Regions from separate parts of the Homo sapiens genome. Here region 1 is linked to region 2. A link means that fine-mapping ties the variant in region 2 to the expression of a gene that starts in the linked region. Tissue or cell type: whole blood. Region 2 holds a variant in brackets; the other region holds the start of a gene. All regions are shown on one strand. Distances are between the middles of the regions.

The links. PIP is the estimated chance that this variant, and not a neighbour inherited with it, causes the effect.
Region 1: CLIC5 starts here. The variant in region 2 is fine-mapped to the expression of CLIC5 in whole blood (INTERVAL, PIP 0.93).

The regions. Positions count from the first base shown.
Region 1 is chr6:46,010,601-46,021,324 of GRCh38, forward strand. CLIC5 (chloride intracellular channel 5) reads right to left here and starts at 5,260. Exons shown (of 6, transcript NM_016929.5): 1 at 4,880-5,260. The coding sequence starts at 4,942. It also overlaps the pseudogene RNU6-754P. RefSeq lists enhancers at 895-944, 4,373-5,217, 5,218-6,062 and a silencer at 4,911-4,960.
Region 2 is chr6:46,039,813-46,050,536 of GRCh38, forward strand. It overlaps a transcript of CLIC5 not described here. Among named protein-coding and RNA genes, the nearest start is that of CLIC5, 29 kb to the left of the region's middle. The variant G/A (reference allele first, on the strand shown) is at 4,363.

The DNA of each region.
Region 1 (10,724 bases), 29 kb before region 2:
AATGCCCAAAGAGACAACACAAGTCATCAGGGATGCAGGAGCTCTCAACACTGGCAGTGGACGTCAGCTTCTGCAGACCCAGTCCTCATTCCCACCACCCTGCCATGGCACTTCAAATATGCATCATACAACTCTTGACGCTAGCTCTCCAGGGATGTGTTACCAGGAGAAGAAGCACTCACTGCCATAGCAGGGCAGGCAAATTTGTGTATTGCGTTATTGACTACAGATCAAAACCTGAAGATAGTGGGAAAGAAAAACACAGTAGCTTAATATGATGAAGGGAACTTTAAAAACCTAGTGAGCTCATGCTTAGGCAAGCGGCCCAAGGTGACCAGGCAGTCACAGTAGCTCAGGGACATAGAGGCGACACCACAAGATCTGATCCTATCTGTTCTGGAAGTCAGATGACCACACCACGAGTCACCACAACTTGTATTGCACCCTGCACCACTCAGAAACTTTTGGGCCACTCAATAAATGAAAGACTAGTCGTTTCCATCAGACAATTAGCAGAACTCTGTTTTACTTCCCCCATGCTGAATTGATGATTCTTTGACTAGACCAACCCTATACACGATTGTTCTGGAGTCCTGTGGATAGGGCTTAATAGTTCGTCAGCATCTGTTAACTGGGCAGTGATTGGATGCAAGCTTTCTATCAACAACACTTCTGACCGTGATGCCCTGAGGCTGTTAGAAGTTCTGGACATTTAATCAGCATTAGCAAGGCCACCTATGTCAGCGGTGGCAGAAGCTGCCTGCTATTGGACCTGCCTCTGATTATGACTCAGTGGCTCTCCACCAGGGCTGCACGCTGGAGCCACCTGAGAGTGGATATGAAAATATTGTTTCAGGGTCCCACCCACAGACACACTGATGTAATCGGCTTGGGGAGCAAACTGCCATCAGAAGTTTTAAAATCTCTCTCAATGGATTGAATAGGTAGTGAAGGCTGAGAACCACTGGTTTCTGTTGAAACCTCAGTTCCTGGCTGAAGAGACACTTGCGGCGAGCTTGTCTGTATCATTAGTCACTTCTGGGGTCCAGGGGTGAGACTGGGAGTGGAGGAAGCAATGCAAATGGGTGGAATGCCTTGATCTAACCTACACAGCACATCCTGTGTTTGTCTTTTCAAATTGCTTTCTGTTTTGCTTTTACTTCCTTGCTCTATTTCTTTCAATAAACCACACTCACTGCCATTACCTCTAGCCTGTTGTCCTCCTCTTAGGATCAAAGTCCAAGCTACATATTATCTCATTTACTCTCAAAATATCCCTGCAAGTGAGGAAGGAGCCAGGCCTTTGTTCCCCAAGGCAAATCAGGGACGTGCAGGTCCAGAAAGGTTCAGTCTGCCATGGGACTCATAATATTCAAGTCAGTGTGTTTACAGCAATTTTCAATTTACAAAGTGTTTTCACCTATGTTCTCCCATGGAATCCTCACAGCAAATCTACAATGACAGTATTTTCATAACCAGAATGACCACACATCCTTATTTGCTCCCAAACTATCCTGGGTTATACCTGTGGTTCCAGCCTAATTATTGATATCATTCCCTTTCACTCTCAAAAGTGTCTAGATTTGGACAATAAATTATATGGTCTCCTTATTTATAACCATGCTCTTGTTTTAAGAGGGCCAGTGAGGCTCCTGAAAGTTAAATAATTTGTTCAGGATCATTTAGCTAATTAGAGGCAGAGGCAAGACTTGAACTCAGGTACTGCATCTCCAAATCCCTGCGCCATCCACAGGTATTATGGGACATTAGAATCAGAGTTGACATGATCTAACATTTCTTATTGTAGAAACTAAAAATGTGGGGAAATAATCTCTTAAAAGTCACTGTCAGAATGTTCCCCGAAAGGGAAAGACTCGGAGTACATAGCAGAAATGGGTTAGTCTCCTTGGAAGCATTCTATGAACACATTAGAATGGATTAATAACATAAATAAATGTCACCATGATGGCACTTGAAAGCCTAACTTGGCAAAATAAGGTATCAGGCCTGACATATAGGTATTTGGAAAAGAGCAAGAAATTCAAAGTCTAAACTGCTAGATTTGAGGACTGGATCTGAATGCTATCTGCCATCTACCTTTGGGCATTTTACCTACTTTCTGTGAGCACATGTATTGTTCAACAGAACAGGAGGAATTATCATTCTTAGTTCCCTGGGCTGTTACAAGAAGAGCAAACTGCAGCTCATCAAGTGCTCTGACAGCGAGTCTCATAAGGTACCTGTGAATCCAGTTTATTTGTTTTCTTTATCTTTCACATAAGTGAATCAAGCCTTATAAAGTTGCTGATGATCAAATGAGATAAGGTATTTGAACATACTTATTATGTCCTAATATGCTGCAATCTTTCCTTCTTCTTATCATTATCATTATCAGCAGTAGTAGTAACAGATAATGACTATCAATTGACGTGGGAGACAATTACAATTACATGTCATTGTGAAACTCATTAGGTGACTGTGATTTAGAGTGGTACACCCAGTGGAAACAAGAGGTTGGGAGGTCCTTCCAAGGGGGTGTTGAAAATGACCAAGTCATGACTATAACTGGGTGGGACCCATCCTTCTTGGAAGTCTTCATAGAAACCAACCCACCCTGCCCTGCAGAAAGAGCTTCAGTTACCTGACACCATCAACAAGAAGGCCTTTCTTTTTATGGGGAATCATGTACCTCAGAGAAACTCCAAACTTTGGAAAAGTGTGATTCTGTCAACAAGGATATTGCTTCCCTCAAATGACACAGTTCAAGTAAGGCCTGGGCAGCATCTTTATTTCACAATATTTCTAGCCTTTACTTGTCCCATTTACTTGTAAATGAGAACTGCTAACCTGAAGCTCAAAAAGATGGGGTTGAGGGAGGAGTCAAAACAACTTTCATACCTGATGTTTTGATCTCCCCATCAATCTGGTTTTTGAGCTAGCCATGAAGGCCTGCCTGGCTCTCATTGATTTCCTTTAGGGAAAAAACAAATGACAACACAGTCATTTTAGAATTATTTGGGGAACGCTGCAAATTGTGCAGTAAGGTTTTTATATAAATGGAGAGACTCTCCAACACTGCCAACAAGAAAATTCCAAAGGTGCAGGTAGAATCGGTCTCCACACCTAGGAGTGGGGCAAAGGGCTCCTTTGGTTCTAAAGAACCTATTTGTGTTTCAAATATCTTTCAGAAACTTGACACCTTGAAACTACCACTCTCAAGGAATCTGAGTAAGTCCTAGAATCGCTTTCTTCAAGGAGAGCAGCAAGACTCATCGCTTTGTTAAAGCTCTCCCTATTCACCCCTAGGGCCCAGGCCTGGATGCTGGGGTTCAGAACACCCCCTTGCTGCCCTAAGGTCCAACACTACCCAGCATCAGACGAGAAATGACCTCCTTTATTACCTGGGTCTGCCAAAGGACCTGGAAATCCAGCCTGGGGTGGGGGTGGGGGGAGTCCCAGAAACCAAAGGAGCACACAGGGGCCACAGTGGGAAGAGAACAGGCTGAAGAAAGCAAGTGTCACTAAATGTCAGGTGTAAGCTTGAAAAATAAACACAAAGAATGTAAAACCCAGCAGAAGAAATTTAACAAACCTTTGTGGTAGGCTGGGACAACGGAGACAGATCACGTACCAAGTGTAAAGTAAGTCACATTTTAAGAGTCAGAAAGTACCAAAGACCACAGATTGTTATCAAGGTTTATGTAGATCTCATACTTTTTGCAAACATCTATTTAATTAGCTTGTAGAGAAGGATCTTTTGGGCAAAATAACATTTTCCCAATTCCAGGGAATATTTATGCCTTTTAAATTCTGCCAGGAGGCCCCTGACAGGCACCAGTGACTCTTCCCTTCTCAGCGATCTGCATATTTCTAGGGAAACTTTGCACTGAGAGAGTTTTCCCCCTTTGTGAAAGGTCTTGGCGCCCAGGCAGTCCCCGACTTCCCCTCCCCCAAGTCCTGGCGACTGTTTCTGCTCAGCCCTGGAGGCTACTCTCCCGCAGCCTCAGGTTTCCCTACTTCTGCAGCGTCGGCACCAAGGGCTGATCAAATGTTTCTTTCTCCTTACACCGGCGGACCGGGAAACGCCGCCGCAGCCTCGCCTCCATCCTTCCTCCTACAGGTTGCAAATAAAGTACAGCAGCTCTGACATTAGGCAGTTTCTGTCCAAGGAGCAAGGTGACTTCATTTAATTTGCACTGTGCTCCTTCATCCCTGTCTGCATCAGGTTGAACGGGAGGCTCTCCCTACTACCAAACGCCTAACATTTCCTTGATACTGCCTTGAAAAATCATGATTATGACAAAAATAATAACGTCGGAGAATGGAGTGCTTGTTTTCTGCTTTGCAAGTCACCAAGCAAGAAAACACTTTTGTCTCCTTGGCTTTTATTTTAGGATCTCTGAGCGAAAGAGAGAAAGAGAATTTTAAGAAATGTCATTTTCGCTTTGCCAAAGATCATTGTGTCAATAACGTTTCTCTCCCATTCCTCCCCCTCCTCCCGTTTTAAAGGAAAGGTTCACGGGTCCAGCCAGGTTTCTGCCGCATCCCGACACCTGGAGACGTCTTTCAGGACCAGCCTGAATCGCGTCCGGGCTGGGCTCTGGACTCGGACTCGCAGCGGTGACAGCGGAGGCGGGGACGGGGGTGGACAAACTGCGGATCAACTCTCCGAGAAGACGGCCACCTGCCGGAACCTGCCTTCCTCCATTCCGCCCAGGAGCCTCGCAGCGGGGCGCTGGCCTGCGGAAAGGCCACGGGGGAGCACAGGGCTCCGCGCCGCCCTCCTGGGAGGGTCCGGAGTCCAGCGCACCCCGAGCCCTGGTGGGTGAGCCCGGCGGGAGGCGCGGCAGGTGCGGCGGGAGACTGGACCCCGACCTACCTTCACAAAGAGCTCGATCTCGGGGTCCCTGTCGTCCCCGTTAGCTGTCGCCGAGTCTGTCATGCCGTTGGCGCCCGGGGCTACCGTCCCGGGCCGGGGAGGCGCCACCTCTGCAGCACCTGGGCCAGCACTCTGCGCTCCTGCCGCTGCCCAGCGGGGCTCCTCTTCAGGGCGGTGTTTAATTTTTCACAAAACCATCTATTCTCCAGCCCGAGCAGCGGGGTCTGAGAGATCAGTGTCCCAGATGCTCACATGAAAAGGAGCGAAGCCGGGAGGAGGCGGGGGGCCACGGGGAAAGCCGGGTTAAGGGAATGACAACAGGTCGTGGGAGCAACAAGTGCCGGGCTGCCCGGAGGTGTCACAGGATCCGCGACTGTCAGCGATCCCGCCGCCGCCAACGCGCCCAAAATAGCCGGCGGCTGCAGGGCGGGGTCAGCCGGGCGGGGACGCGGCGGGGACACCCCGGCAGCTCGGGCCTGGGCCGGGCCACGGCCCCCCGCCCCAAGACCCCGCAGGGCAGGAGGCGGAGACAGAGCTGGTCCTGGCAAAGCCACCAAGGCCAAGAGGATGTCCTGGGGGCGGATAATGAGGCGAAGGCAGAAAGAGTCGAGGAGAAGGGGAAGGGGAAGAGGAAGGGGAAAGGGGAAGGGGAAGAGGAAGGGGAAAGGGGAAGGGGAAGAGGAAGGGGAAAGGGGAAGGGGAAGAGGAAGGGGAAAGGGGAAGGGGAAGAGGAAGGGGAAAGGGGAAGGGGAAGGAAGAGAGGAGATGGCTCTCAAGTCTTCTGTTTCTTTAATAAAGCGTCAGCTCCTCCGAGTTACTCCACTACCAGCCTTACCCACTTGGAAAGCCCTTCCTGTCTTAGTGATGCTCAGAACCCCCACCAAAAGGGGCATTTGCCATCCTTGGGCTAAGCAAAAGGAGAGTAGGGTGCTGGGGACGGGCAGGGCAGGGCAGGGGTGGCTCCTGGGGCAGAGGGGTGAGTCAACCCGGTCAGGTGCGGCTTCCATGCCTTTCAGCCTTCTGGGTTTGTTTATTTTTCTTCTCCCTTCTTTCATTTTCTTTCTATTTCTTCCTTTATTTTCTGATCTTACTTCATTCCCGTTCTCTTCTGGTTGTTTTAGTGAAGTAGGATGCAAACACAGAAAAGATGCACATATCTTAGGTGTATGCCTCAATGAATTTTCACAATCCAACCCACCCATGTAACGAGCGCCAGATGAAGAATAAAATGTTAGCCACAGCCCTAGAAGCTCCTCCTGCTCTCTCCTCTCCACATCTTTTCTCCCGTCTCCACTGTCCCAGGGTAACCATTATTCTGGCTTGTAGCAGCATAGGATCTTTTTGCCTGGAATGTTGGTGTCTGGCTTCTTTCGCTCATTACTATGTTTGTGAGATTCATCCATTGTGCTATGTGTAGTTGTGTATCATCCATTTTCACCGACACACTTACTTATTCATTCTTCTGTCAATGGACATTTGTGCAGGTGACTATCATGACTACTCTGTCACGAACATTCTCTCTATCAAACATCTTTTGGTTGGATTCACAGACACTTTTCTCTTGGATGTATACTTAGGAGTGGACTTGCTGAGTTGTAGTGTATAAGAATGCTCTCCTTGTGTAAACACTGCCATAGGTTTTCTAAAGTGGTTGCACCAACAGACATTCCCACCCTTCAGTTCTTTAAAAAATAATTATTGAATGTTTTGCACCAGAATCTGGTGGAATTCTCTTTGTCTTCTTTGCCTTCTCTTTAATTAATCCTGTTTGTGCTATGTCCTTCCTTACTAAAAACATGTATTTGTTTAATAGCTTTATTAAAAAATTTATCGCTTAATAAAAAAATAAGTAATAATACTTATTATGTGCTAGGCAAAAATGTTGAGCACTTTACATGTGTGAACTTGTATAATATTTACAAATAGTATAATGATCCCAATTTTACAAGTGGGGAAACTGAGACATGAAGTATTTAAGTAACTTATCCCTAGTCATTCAGCTAGGAAATGGTGAAGTCAGGATTTAAACCCAGACAGACTTGAGCCTGTCCTCTCAACTGCTCTACAAACTGCTTTTCTTAGTGCACACTATGGAAGTGCACACTTTGAGGAAACAAAGGCATGGTTTTAACGGTCTTAACAGAGATCAAAATCCCTTTCAGAATAATAGTTACATGAAATGAAAACTAAGGCTGCCACATGAATTGGGAAGATGAAGGAGCTATACAAGCTGTCACGTAAAGATACTATTTACCATGGTTGGGGTGAGGAGAGGAAAAGGCTTCATGGAGCAAAAGGCACTTTAGCTGAACCTTCCTGAAAGGTCAGGCATCTGATAGGCAAAGAAAAGGGAAAGATGTCCTCACTACCCTTTATGGCAGGCTGTGTCCCCACAGACTCTCAGTGCAAATTCCTCCTTCCTGAAGAAAGCAGTCACCAAGCCCAACGTGCAACTCTCTTGGTACATTATAACTTAATCAAGGTGATGTTTAATTGCTTTCCTCCTGCTTGGCTTCAGGCTTACATCACCAAAGCCTTTAGAGAAACAGTCACCTTCACAGCTGTACATTCTGCACCAATGACTACATACTTTAGGGAAGGACCAAGGTTACAGAGGGAGACTGGTGCCTTCGCTGCATGATGCACAGACTCAGAACATCCCTGCACTGAAGTGTAGGCAATATTCTTAATGGCAATGTGGCAGTAGCAAATAAAATTATATGCATAAAATGTCTTCGAGGGTTTTGGTTTTTTGTTTTTTGTTTTAATGAAAAATGTGTTACACGTATTTTCGATCATTTCCTTGGCTATGATCTAAACAATGTGTGGTATGACTTCTCTTTCCTTAATCCCAAACCTATCAGAGTTAACTTTCATTTTATCTTCTCCAAATATCTACTGCTATTGTAAATTTGGACAGATCTCTTTCAATAACATTTTATAGGAAATATCTCCCATTTGGACATCCCTGCAGATAACTTATAGTTTTGATATTATAAAGCTTCATGCTGCAAAAAAAATAATTCTTCTTTGGTCATAAACTATTTCTGTGCATATTTTCCATTTTCAATTTCATATTATGCCTTAGCTCAAGATAAAAGGACTTTACTTTGTACCCTTTAATGTTAAAGAATAATTGGTTAGAGTCAATTCTAGCTTTGTCTGGAGAAAAACACTATATGTCTAATTCCAGCCCATAGTTTCACAAATGTGGTGCAAGTTTTGAATAAATTTTTACCAGGAAAGTACTTTAAAAACACATTTAGTGCTCACTTTGGCAGCACATATTCTAAAATGGAAACCATACAGAGAAGATTGGCATGGCTCCAATGAAAGGGTGACATGCAAATCTGTGTGACATTCATATTTTTGTATGACTGTTGAAAGTGAAAACTATAACATATCTGATAGCATTTTTAATATATTTAGATTCAATAATATGACCACTGCAGCATAAAGGGTAAAGGGCAAGGAATTTATACAGTTGTAAGGTTTATATACTTTACTTGATATAGTAAACTCTAAGTAGCCTGAGAAAAACTAGGTATGTGTATTGTAATCCCTAAAGAAACAGCTATTTGAGTTATAAAACAAAAGTATAGTAAAAAAAAAAAAGCCAACAGATAAGCTAAAATGGAATGACAAGAAATATTCAAATAATCTAAAAGGCAGAAAAGAGGAAGAGAATAGAAAACTGATAATAAAATGGTACACCTAAATATAACCATATTAATACTTAAGCTAAATATAAATGGTCTAAGCACATAAATTAAAAGCTGAAGATTGTTGGATTGCATAAAAAAGCAACAAGAAGACCCAACTATATGCTGTTACAGAATTCACTTCAAACACAATGTTATTGATAAATTAAAAGTAAGAGGATGGAAAAGCCCCTGCCATGCAAACACTAATCAAAAGAAAGCTGGGCCGGGCGCGGTGGCTCACGCCTGTAATCCCAGCACTTTGGGAGGCCGAGGCGGATGGATCATGAGGTCAGGAGATCGAGACCATCCTGGCTAACAAGGTGAAACCCCGTCTCTACTAAAAATACAAAAAATTAGCCGGGCGCGGTGGCGGGCGCCTGTAGTCCCAGCTACTGGGGAGGCTGAGGCAGGAGAATGGCGTGAACCCGGGAAGCGGAGCTTGCAGTGAGCCGAGATTGCGCCACTGCAGTCCGCAGTCCGGCCTGGGCGACAGAGCGAGACTCCGTCTCAAAAAAAAAAAAAAAAAAAAGAAAGCTAACCTCTAAATTAATATAATTATTAATAATATATAAACATATATTAATGTAAGTCTATTAGACAAAATAGACTTCAGAAAAAGGAAATTATCAGGAATAGAGACATTACATAATAATAATAATAATAACAGAGCCAGCTCACCAAGAAGATAGAACAACCTTAAATGCATATATACTTAATAACAGAGCTTCAATATTGATGAAACAATAGCTGATGGAACTGAAAGGAGAAAGAGAAATACAGAATTATAGTTAGAGACTTCAGTTCTCCTCTTTTGGTAATTTATAGCACAAGTAGACAAAAAATCCATAAGAATATAGAATATAGAAGACCTAAACAACACTATCAATAACCTTGACCTTATGAACATTTGTGGAATATCCCACCCAAACAACAACATAATATACACTATTGTCAGATATATATGGAACATTTACCAAAAGAGATCACATTCTGGGTCACAGAACAAACTTCATTACGTTAAAATAATGAAATTATACAAAGTATGTTCTCTGACCATAATGGAATCAATTAAATTAATATCCAGAAAGATATCCAAAACACTTCCAGTTATTTGGAAATTAAGCAACACACTTTAAGAAATTCATTGATCAACAAGGAAGCCTCAAGGATTATTAAAAAATATTTTGAACTGAATTCAAATGAACATACAACATATCAAAATTTGTGAGATGCAGCTAAAGCAACGCTTAGTAGAAATTTATACATAAAACACTTATTTTGGAAAATAATAAAGTTCTGAAATTTATAATCTAGGCTTCCATTTTATGGAACTAGAAAAAAGAACAGCCAGCTAAAACCAAAGCAAGCAAAAATAATAAAATAATAAATATAAAAACAGAAATTAATGAAATCGAAGAAAAAATAAAACAATAGAGAAAATCAATAATACTAGAGGCTGGTTTTTATCAAAGATCAATAAAGTTGATAAATTTCTCACTAGATTTACCAAAAAACTAGAGAGAGAAGATATATTATCAATGTTAGATACAAAAGATGGGATATCAACTATGAACTTCACAGATACAAAAAGATAAGGGAGTACTACAAACAACTCTCTGAACATAAATTAGACCATTTAGATAAAATGGATAAAAGACACAGACTAACAAAATTCACTCAATGAGAAGTAGATAACCTGAATAGTCCTATATTTATTAAACATATTAAATTCATAGTTGAAAGCCCTCCAAGAAAAGAAAACTACAGCCCCATATACCTTCATTAATGAATTCTACTAAACATTTTAGAAAGAATAACACCAATTCCATGCAATCTCTTCCAGTAATGAGAAGAGGAGGAAGTGAAGGACTTGTATCCAGGATTTGTAAAGAATTTTTACAACTCAAAAAAAAAAAAAAAAAAAAACCCAGCTAAAAAAATAGGCAAAATATCTGAGCAGACACTTTAACCTAGAAGACTTACCAATGGCAAACACATGAAAATATGCTCAACGTTCTTCAGTAGAGCAATGCAAATAAAGAGATACCACAATATACCTATTAGAATGGTTACAATGTGCATTCATGATAATCCCATGTGTGAGCAAGAATACAGAGCAACTGGAACTCTCATACATTGAT
Region 2 (10,724 bases):
AGGAAATGCAGACAATAAATCAGCACATGGAAAAATGTTCAGTCTCAATAGCAACTAAAGAGATGTAAACAAAAAACCTTTAAAACACCACAGCATATCAGTTAAGTAACTGTAAACCCTGGCAATTCAGACAATGAGCTTTGGAATCAGATAGATGTAGATATGGATCCTGCCTTGCCACTTTTTAGCTGTGTCTTTGATTCAGGGTCCCAACCTCTCAGCATCCATTTTCTAATCAGTAGCATACAGCTATTATACTTAAAGGATTAGTGTGAGGATAAAATGATTAATGTAAATAAACCATTCAGTACAGTATCTGGCACATATTGAATGTTTCCGTTAATGGTAGGCAGCAATAGTGGTGGTGGAAGATAATGATGATGGTACTAGTGCTGGTAATGGTGGTGGTGAAAATGATGGTGACGGTAGCATGTGATGACACTGTTGTTTGTTGGTGGTGTTGTTGAAGACAACGCGATTGGTAGTATTTGATTTGTTGCTCATAGTGTTAATAATGGTGATAATAGCTGATCATGGTGATGGCATTGGTGGAGGTGATGGGAATGATGGTGGATGAGGCTTGGTGGTGGTACAGATAGTAGTACAGGTGGTGGTAATGGTAGCGGAACACAGTAATAGTGGTGGTGGTGAAAGTAATGGCGCTGGCATTGTTGGTAGTGGGCTTGATGATGATGATGGTGGTGAATGATGATGGTGATGTGGTAGAGGTTGCATTGATAAAGGTGATAATGATGCTGATGGTGGGGTGGTGGTGGTGTTCGTGAAGTTGATGATGGTGGTGGTGGATGACGATGTTGTTGGTAGTGATGTTGATGTCGACGGTAGCTGATAATAGTAATGGTGTTGGTGTTTCTTGTGTTGATGAAGGAGATGGTGATAGTAGTGGCTGTGGTGCAGGGGGCAATGGTGATAGTATTGTGGTTTTTTTAAAAAAAGCTAAAATTATAAATAGCAGTTGTAGCAGTTGTGGCAGTTGTAGTGGATAAATCAGAAAAATGGAATACTACAAATGCAATGTTATTGGTCTTGCAATTTGTTAGTCTTTCTAGAAAGCAATCTACCAAAAGATATGATATGTTGTACACTTTGACACAGAAGTTAAGCTCTTGGGAACATACATAAAAAAATCCCCCAAATTAAAAATGGTCTGTAAATAGTATAGCAGTGTTATTTATAACTGGGAACAATACAAAAGCCTCAGCAATAGGGAAATGACTAAGAAAATTGTGATACATCAAGATGGTGGAATAATATTATGTAGCTATTGAAAGTGAAATATGAGGAAATATGCATATGAAAAACTATGTTAGAATACACAAAGCTATGTGTTCAGAGAGTGTGCATTTGTGTGCTTTTACCAAATAACAGAAGAAAATATAATTGCAGGTGCATAGAGTTTAATAAAGGTTTCATATTAATTAAGCTTTTTCTTTATATTTCCAAAATAAGTTTAACTGCTATACCTTGCATTGCATGCAAGAAAAACCAACACCATTACTATCATTATGCTTTTGTAAATAATTAATGGTCCCATTAACTCATGCAGGGTCGTGGTTGAATTGCAAACTATACCTCAGTCCAAATAACTGGCTCCTAACTAACTAATATTGAGACAGGCCACCTCCCCACTCCTTTCCTTAGAGTCTGTTTACAGCCTACCTTTTATTGCTCATCCCAGTTCTTCGTTCCTCACTTTATCCTCACAATGCTTAGGAAGAAGTTTCAAAAGAAAACAGGGATTTTTTTGGTTGTTGTTTCAAAACCAAAAAATTAGAGGTCATAAAAAGCCCAGTGGTATCAATTTAATTACATGTCTGCTCATTTGAATGTGAGTTAGGTTTGTGGTTGTATACCTAAAGCCCCGAGTATTGATAAGTTTTGAATTTTAGAACAGTTACCTAACTTCTCTATGCTTACATTTCATCAACTATAAAATGGGAGTAACAATAGCAACTAACTTGTTGGGTGGTTGCAAAGATTAAATGAGGGGCTCCAGGTAAGATATGGCAGAGTGCCTGACACAGAGTTAATGTTTATTATTATTTGTTAATAATAAAGTTAATGTTTATAATTTTTTGTATTGAGTCTTGTCACTGCCATCACTATTATGTCTACTCCACCAAAAAGCACTAGAAGCTCTCAATTAGAAACAAAGGCACTGGACTACCAGTTTCATTATCTATATAATGGGAATATTAGACCAGGTGATTTTTGACTTGCTGTGACTCTGTTTTCTAGGAGAGAATAATGTTCTCTTTTATTGATTTTTGTCTCATGTCAGGAAGGAGAATAATAAATCCAAAACCAAACTAAAATGGGCTTTCAAAATCACTCTTTTTAAAAATTAAAATATTGAATTAATAAAATGCTCGTTTGCCTTGCTTAAATATTCTGAACAGTTTCTTAACTATTTCAATGAAAGCATTAAAAAGGTTGTATTTCTGCATTCAATAACAAACTTATCTTTGAAATAGAAAATGGCTTATGAAGTTGAAATTAATTTTTTTTTCAATAATTTCCCCAAGTTCTGTAGGTTTTTTTTGTTTTTGTTTTGGGTAGTTTTTTCTTTTTTCAAAATAAATTTATTTAAATTCCCTTCAAGATAGAAACAAGACTGAATGGCCCACCTAGGAGGTGGGGCAGGCAGGCCTTGGGAGGCACTGAGGCCACTCGGGGTGTTTAGCCAGATGTCCTTCATACTCCAGCACGTCACACATCATCAGTACAGTCATGCCTCTGAAAAACCCTAGAGGGTGCTGTTTTCCTGTTTGTTTTCATCCTTGCCTTGCCCTCTCAATGAGACAATGAAAAGAACAAAAAAGGAGGGAAGTAGATACATCAGCAACAAAACACAGACTATGTGTTTAAACAAAACATGGACTACATGTACCCGAGCCCAAGATGACATGGAGTATTGAGTCTCGGTTCCTGTTTGCCAGGTGAGGATGCAGAACCTCAGAGAGATGGGGCACTTAGTCAAGGTCACCCTGCTAACCATTGGCAATAGAGACAAAGCTAGAATCCAGACCTCAGACACTCAGACCTTCTGTGCTCTACTACATGCCTCCCTCAACAGGTAAAACACAATGTCCACCAAGTGGGAGGGCCAAGGCACATGCTTCTGGGTGCACGTTCTCTCTTGCTTATGTGATTTTGTTTCCAAGGAGCAAGGTTGCTGACTGAAAAACAGAGATATATTTCAGAAGTGTGTAATTTGCAGGGATTTTTACCTTCTGATTCTACATAGCCCACCCATAAATCACTCCTAATGACTTTGCGTCATTAGCACCAACAGAGTTGGTTGCAGTTACTAGATGCAACAGTGATGATGAGACTATTAACGGTGCTGATAATGATGTACAGTTATTGAGCACCCTCTGTGTACCATGTACTGTGCTAGGTACTTTGTATACATTGGTTCATCTACTCTTTGCTATAGCCTTATAAAGCATGTATTGTATTTTCTTATTTTATAGATGAGAAAAGTGAGGATTAGAAGTTTTAAGAAGCTGGCCTATAATTACACAGAAGGGAACTAGATTGTGAAACCAGGTTAATGTCTTCATTTGCTTATGCACCATGTTCTCAAATACCTGCAAAGTACAGGAAAAATGATAGGGCTGGTGGTGAGATAGAGAAAGGCTGGAGGTGGTGGAAGTATAACAGGTCAACTTATTTTGGAACTTTTGTGCTGCCAAATCACATAAGGCAAACTCCTAATGTACTAGGTTCACTTTTTATATTGAGGTGGAGAAAGTTGTTTCAAAGTCAGAGGGTAATTGTAGCAGTTAGAAGAAGCTAAGTTTAGGAGCCACTTCAGAGTACAGTTCAGGCAACACACACACACAAAATCTGAACTGTGGAGATGGGAAGAAAGGAATGTCCCTTCACTTGTGCTTCATTTACTTCCTGAGGGCAGCTCATGCACTGTGCTATGTCTCCATTCACCAATGTGAAAAATGAGGAGGGAGGTGGTGCTCTACACTGAGGTATGGCAAGGAGCTCTCTGTATCTAACTTGCAGAGGGCAGCAGAGTTTATCATTGCATTCTTAAAAGGAGGGACAGCCCACTCTTCAGTTCACAGATTCATCGGATGCCAGTCAGCCTGCTGTGTGCAATGTCCTCTGCTGTGTGTTGTGGGGTAGGCGAAGTTGGATAAGATGCATTGCCTGCTTCCATATGCTTGTGGGAGAAAAGAAACAACTACAATGCTGGGAGCAAAATAGTGCCTGGTATCTACCTGCGGAGCTGCCCAAATTCAAAAGCAGCCATTAGCACAGTAGTCACCCATGAGGGTCTCTGTGGTAGTCACCTGTGAATGCTTCAAAGGTTCTTTCCTT[G/A]GAAGATGCCATCTGTTGTGGCTTGAAGTTTTACAAAGGGTTCCTTGCTCCAGTTGAGGCTTTTTGACTAATAAAAAAGGAAAATACCTTGATAAAAATAACCACCTCAGATCATATTTATTCCCTGGAATGACTGCACTTGACAGGCTCTTTTCCGAGAGTAGTACCCAAAGAGGGTACATAAAGAGGGGAGAACAAGGAAGGGGAAAACAAGAAGTAGTGGAGGGAAATGGTGGCTTTGGAAAGAGATTTTACCTGTATCATCACTTGGTTTAAGACCAGGCCTGTCCAGAAATTTACATAAATTTGGAAATTTTGCACTGTGGATTTGAGTTATTTGCTTTCAGTATTGTTACAAACCTTCAGGGCAAAGGTAAAATGGAAATGGAGATTTGGTGATCTTTTGCTTCACATCTGGAGAGCAGACCCGCTTGACAGTGGCAGGAATGTAGGTTTCTTGGGGTGAGCCTGGATGAAAATGCTTCTGGGAACTTACTTCTCTAACTAAACAGTCATCTATTTTTCTTATATGATTTGGGGGCCATAGAGTGACTGAAGATGAAAAAGAATGCATATTCAGCTACTTGTAGGATTATAACACAATTAATGAAAGTTACAATCTAAACTATATCCTACTGAAGACAAAGAAAGTGAAAGAACAATAGCTCAAATTCAAAATGTATCTTGATCCATCACCTGACAATGAGAATCAAATTAATAACTCTCTCATAAATCATCAGAGGTTATGGGAGATTCATCTCCTGTGTTTGAGGCCTTCATTCTTGAGCACTCAGCTCCTCCAGAAGCGGCTGGCATCTAGCATGCTTGCCATAAATAAATCATTCTTAGCTTGCTGACCTGGAGCAGTGAGTGGGCCGTAGTCCCCCACCACACCCGCTCTCCTCTGAGAGTAAAATGCCCTGTTGCATTTTTAATACCACCCTAAGACTCTGTGTCAAGTTTCCACAAAGTTTGCCAGAGGAATTAGCTTCCTCTTTTTAATAGGCAGTTCCAAGAGGTCAGAAGATAAACAAGTTTGAAAACAATTACATTTTTTTTAAATCACTTGATCCAACATACCGCATCTTGCATTTTCAGAAAAGATTGGCTTCTATAATTTTACCACCTGGTACAACATATTGAAATGTACTTTATTTAACACAATAACCACCGAGTTATTATTATTTTTCTTGCTTCCTTTCCTTCCTTCCTTTTGCAATGTGGGAACTGCCTGCCCAGGGGAATATGACTCACCCTGGATTGACTCAGAGTATATATGACTTCATGAAACACCACAGAGTGAGGGCAGAGAGTCACTGGCCCATTCTCCATGATGCTGGTTGCCAAGAAACCATTGGCCTTCTAGGTAACAAGATGGTCTACCTGTCTTTTGGGGTTGTTCATGGAAGTTTACTTAGTGTCTGTGTATCTATGGCTCCCTGTTTGATCAAACAAGACACGTGAATAAGAAAGCAGTAAGCCAGAGAGGAACTTATTTAATCATTATTCAAAGTCAAAATAATTTTATCTTTAAACAACTATACCTACTTTTTAAATTTAGTAAATTATTACAAATTATAAATATTTTTTATTTTTTATATCTTATAAAGTTCCAATTATGCCATATTACTAATTGGTATTTACCAAAATACAGCTATCTTCCACATCTTATTCTCTTCTATGAAATAGTATTCATGCAATTTTGAACATGTTCCAGTCATTGGAAGCACTGGCTAAGGAACGCACATGAACATAAGCATTTGGTATTATTATTTTTCAAATACAAGTTTTGACAATCGCCTTACCTGTGTAAAGGCAGGTGCAATCACTTTGGGGCATGGGATTGGGGAGCTGGGGCTGAGGAGAGGGTGCCAGAATTACTCCATAGTTACCCAAACCATCTTCTCCAGTAGGACTTTGGTGAAACATTAGTTTGGATTGAAAGTACAGAAACAAAGTGGACTAGATTCCAGAGATGAAACTTGCCTTGCTTACCCCTGAGTAATGCTTCTTCTAACTGATGTGTAACTTTTCCTCTTGGGGTTTTAGTTCCCTCCACTATGTAATGAAGACAATCTCTAAGGTTCCTTTCTCCTCCTCTGATAGCTTCTGCTGCCATCTTATCTGCCTCACTTAAGGACCTTCCTAGTTACAGTAAAATCAACAGCAAAACAAGCTCATCAATTCCACCTCAATGGAAACAAAAGAAACGAAATGAAGTGTCAGTACCATTTCCCAAAACCAACCAGTGACTGTTGACTAACAGTGCAAAGAGAGTGGGAAATGGTCAAAAGTCTCTTTAACATCAGACCACCTGGTACTGCCTTTTCTGAGATTAGACATTTTACTTAGAAAAGCCTGTATGGTCAATTCAGTGTGGTCACTTAAGAGACCCCATCATTCATGTGAAACTTGCTTTTTACTTTCAGATGGGTGTATACCATGATGATTTTGATAAAGTCCACTTGAAACCATGTCCATTTCTGTTTAGAGTAGTTTTAGCACTCTTTCTATTAATAACAGTCATCTCCTTAAATAGAAGCCTGTGTCAGCGAAGTCTAACTACACAGGAGGTGTTTGTTCCTAACAGACATGCACAGGGGCCAGCGGAGATGACCAGTCCTCACTGCATGCCTGGAGGAAGTGTGGTGCCCAAGATGGCTCAACCATCATTGATTTGACAATTTAATAATCACGATGGTGGAAACAATCTGTGTCCATTTATCTGGTTAGTATAGGAAGAAGCTTGGAATACTCTGACCTAACGCAAGGATGATTTATTGTCATAATCATAAAACTCAAAGTCCAAGACCTCTCACTTTCACTGCTCCCTTCCCATGCCCAGAAAGGGACCTACCGTAGTGTTCACATGATTTATTTTTGCAAAATTTGCAAGCATAAGATATTTGAGCTGCAACTGGTTAAGACCAATGCCTCTTTTCATTACAGCTTTCCCTCTGTTATACTTCCACTAGCCTCAGATGGTATTAGAGTTGCCATGGGCATCTTGGGTACTTCACTAAGTGGGAAGTTAAATTAGGCATATATTTAGTTTGGGTTTAGTGAGATATATTTGTGTGGTCCTAAGTTATTTCCGGTAATAGTTACATTATTGTTAACCATCATGGTGAAGAGCTGGCCTTCAGTAATACTCTTGATGCCCATTGTGCTGACTTCACTCAGGTCATGACCCAAAGATGGTCATGTCACAATATAAATGTATCCTATGGCATCAGCACCAGAAATATGCAGGATATGAAGATTGAAATTTGAAAGATATAGAGCTAGAAGCTAGTCTGTGGGAAGTTCTCCCAGTTATCAGATATGTAAAATTGTAAACAGAGGATCTAGTTTTCACCAATGCCTAGTCAAAACAGAAATTCTCTCTTGTCAGGAATATACACAATAATGCAACATATACAATAACAAATGCACCATATATTTTTCAGTGGGAAGTACCCAAAGTAGACTTTTATGTATTTGCATACAAACCTGTAGTACTTCTATAAACAGTTGCAGTTTTACGTCCCAACTATTAATACTAAAAGTCAATGTTGATTGATCATCCTAGTGGAGGAATTGTGTTACCTGTCTTCTCTCCCACAAATCAGGATATTACAAAATCATTGGCAAATGAAGAGGCATTCAAAGTGTATGTTTCAAAAAAAACAGAAAAAACAGTATTACAGGTATATGTTATCCACATAATAAAATATTAATTTACCTTTTGGGATTTTTTGATATCTGTGGTATATAATAGTTTTCTAAAAGTCTGCAAATTTGTTTTAATTCCTTTTCATATTCTAAATAAATATTCACTTCCATATCTACTTTTTTTTTTTTTTTTAGACAAAGTCTCACTCTGTCCCCTAGGCTGGAGTGCAGTGGCGCAATTTTGGCTCACTGCAACCTCTACATCCCTGGTTCAAGCGATTCTCATGCCTCAGCCTCCTGAGTAGCTGAGATTACAGGTGCATGCCACCACGCCTGGTTAATTTTTGTATTTTTACTAGAGACAGGGTTTTGCCATATTGGCCAAGTTGGTCTCGAATTCCTGACCTCAAGTGATCCACCCACCTGGGCCTCCCAAACTGCTGGGATTACAGGCATGAGCCACTGCTCCCAGCCCCATATTATATTTTGTAGTTGGAATTTCATTTTTGTTTCTGAAGGAGGGCTCCTTAAAAGCATGAACTTCAGGTTCACAAATTCTAGGGCTGCCTCTGCTCCTAACCCAGTCTTAGCATGGGAAGATTTTCAGGCTTGACTCTTTTCCATCCTCCCTGTTTCAAATACTCTCTCTGCTTGCTCTTTGGCCTCATACACAGCAGGCATCTTTCTTTCCAGTCTCTTTGCCAGTGGTAAATGGCCTCCTTTTCTCAAAACTCACCTTGGCTGCTGCTTGCTTTGCTCCACCCAGCAGTCACCCCACCTCCCACCTCCTCATCAACCCCAGCTCCATTACTAGTCCAGCTCCTGAAACCTCAGCCCTGATCAGAGCCCTGGCCTTCCTCCTTGCCTGGGAGGGAGTTGAGGCTGGCAATGGACACAATTCAATATAGTTTAACCAGTGAGAAGTTGGCAATGCCATCAGGTGCCACTTGTCTCCCGGGGGAAGAATGGGGGCCAAGAGCCTGCAGTGTCATGTCAGTCAGGCACATGCAGTGGCTTAGCATCAGAATGCGTGGTTCAGACCGTGGCCACAGTAGGGAAAATGGACTCTTCATAGTTGCCAAGCAATGCTAAAGGTCAGACAAAATCTAATTTGAGAATTCAAATTTGAGAATTTAAAAGCCAGAGTGGTCAGAGGCAAGGGAGGAAAACAAAGGAGCTTGCTGTTCAAAAGCACTTTCTCCAGGCCTCCTGTTTGAATATCCCCTGCAACTACTAGGGTAAGGCAGATTTGGGAAAGATAGGGGACTGATTACACTAATGCTGTTTTGCTTTGCAAATGAAGGTTGAGAAGAGCAGTTTAGGGGCTGCTCCACAGGAAAACTTGTAGGGAGTAATCCTAGACTATCTCTTTCATAATCATCTTTGGGATTCTTTCCCTATCCAGGGAAGATGAATAGGTTTCATCCTTTAAATAATATTTTTAACCTACCTCCAAGCATAACATCTCCCAGGAACTTGTGAAAACAGCAAGAACTTGTGATAAAGTTACAAATGCTCAAAAATGTCCCTGTGATTAAGTTTTACCCATGCTTCTACAAGAAATTAATCCCTCTCCCTGTCTCCCTTCTCCCCTTCCTCTCTTTTCTTTTTTCATTTCTAGCAGATAGGAATAGTTGACTGATATAGGAGACAATGAAAGTACCCAACCATTGAGGGGAATTTAAACGCCCTCAGTATTAAGCAGAGTATCACATAGTTAAAAATACAGGCTTTGGAGACCAACAGACCCAGGTATGAGTCCCCATTTCAATATAACCTTCAGATCCAGGCAAGAGCAGTCAACCTGGCTGTGGGAATAGGCAGAACTAACATAAACAAGAAACAAAACATTGGGTTGGGTAAATTAACTCAGGGACAAAAACAGATATGTCATATAGACTACAATTTTCACTTCTTTGCCATCAGCTTTTGACAGGCTATGTAAATAGCCTCAGGCAGAAAGCTCGAGACATAGCAATTCCAATGTTTGGTAAGTTATAGTTAATTGTTTCCAAAATGGGAAATGCTGAGTTAAACAAGATTCAAGGTTTTTTGACTGATGTCTCTGCTCCTTTTATAAGCTAATGTGTACTGTGAATCTGCAAGAGGAGAATTAGGGACTGTTTCTCAAGTTTCTTTAGCCATTTTTTTGTGTGGAGTATCTCAAGGAATGTGTGCTCTGTGGGATATATGTTCAGAAATAAGCTCTGGCCTTAGGAGGTCCCATCACACCAATTGCCAATATATCTCCTCAGCAGCAAACCATTTTAAAGCCCAATGGATGTCACTGGGCTGTTTATTCACTTGTCCATTGATCCTTCTCCATGTTTCTCTGTGTCCCTGTAAGTGCCTGGACCACATCCCTATGCAGAGCAACCAAAGTTAATCTGTTCAGTTGAAAGTAACTGTACCTGCAGCTGTGGACAGATTCCTGCACGTAGTACACCCAGTCTCTGACGCTGTTGATGCCCTGCACTCTGGTTCTGCTTATTTGGTTAAATTGAGTTTTCTAACATAAATAAAAAGGGGAGGCTTTTATAAGGACCTTTTAAGAAATGAAAACCAACACAATATACCATTTGTCCAAGCACAAAGTAAACTTGGCATCCTGAGATGTTCAACCACATCATTTCATTATTACTGCTACTAATGGGAGACAGTGCTTGCTAGTTGCCAAGTTTGAATCATCCCATCTTAGGGCAGAGTTA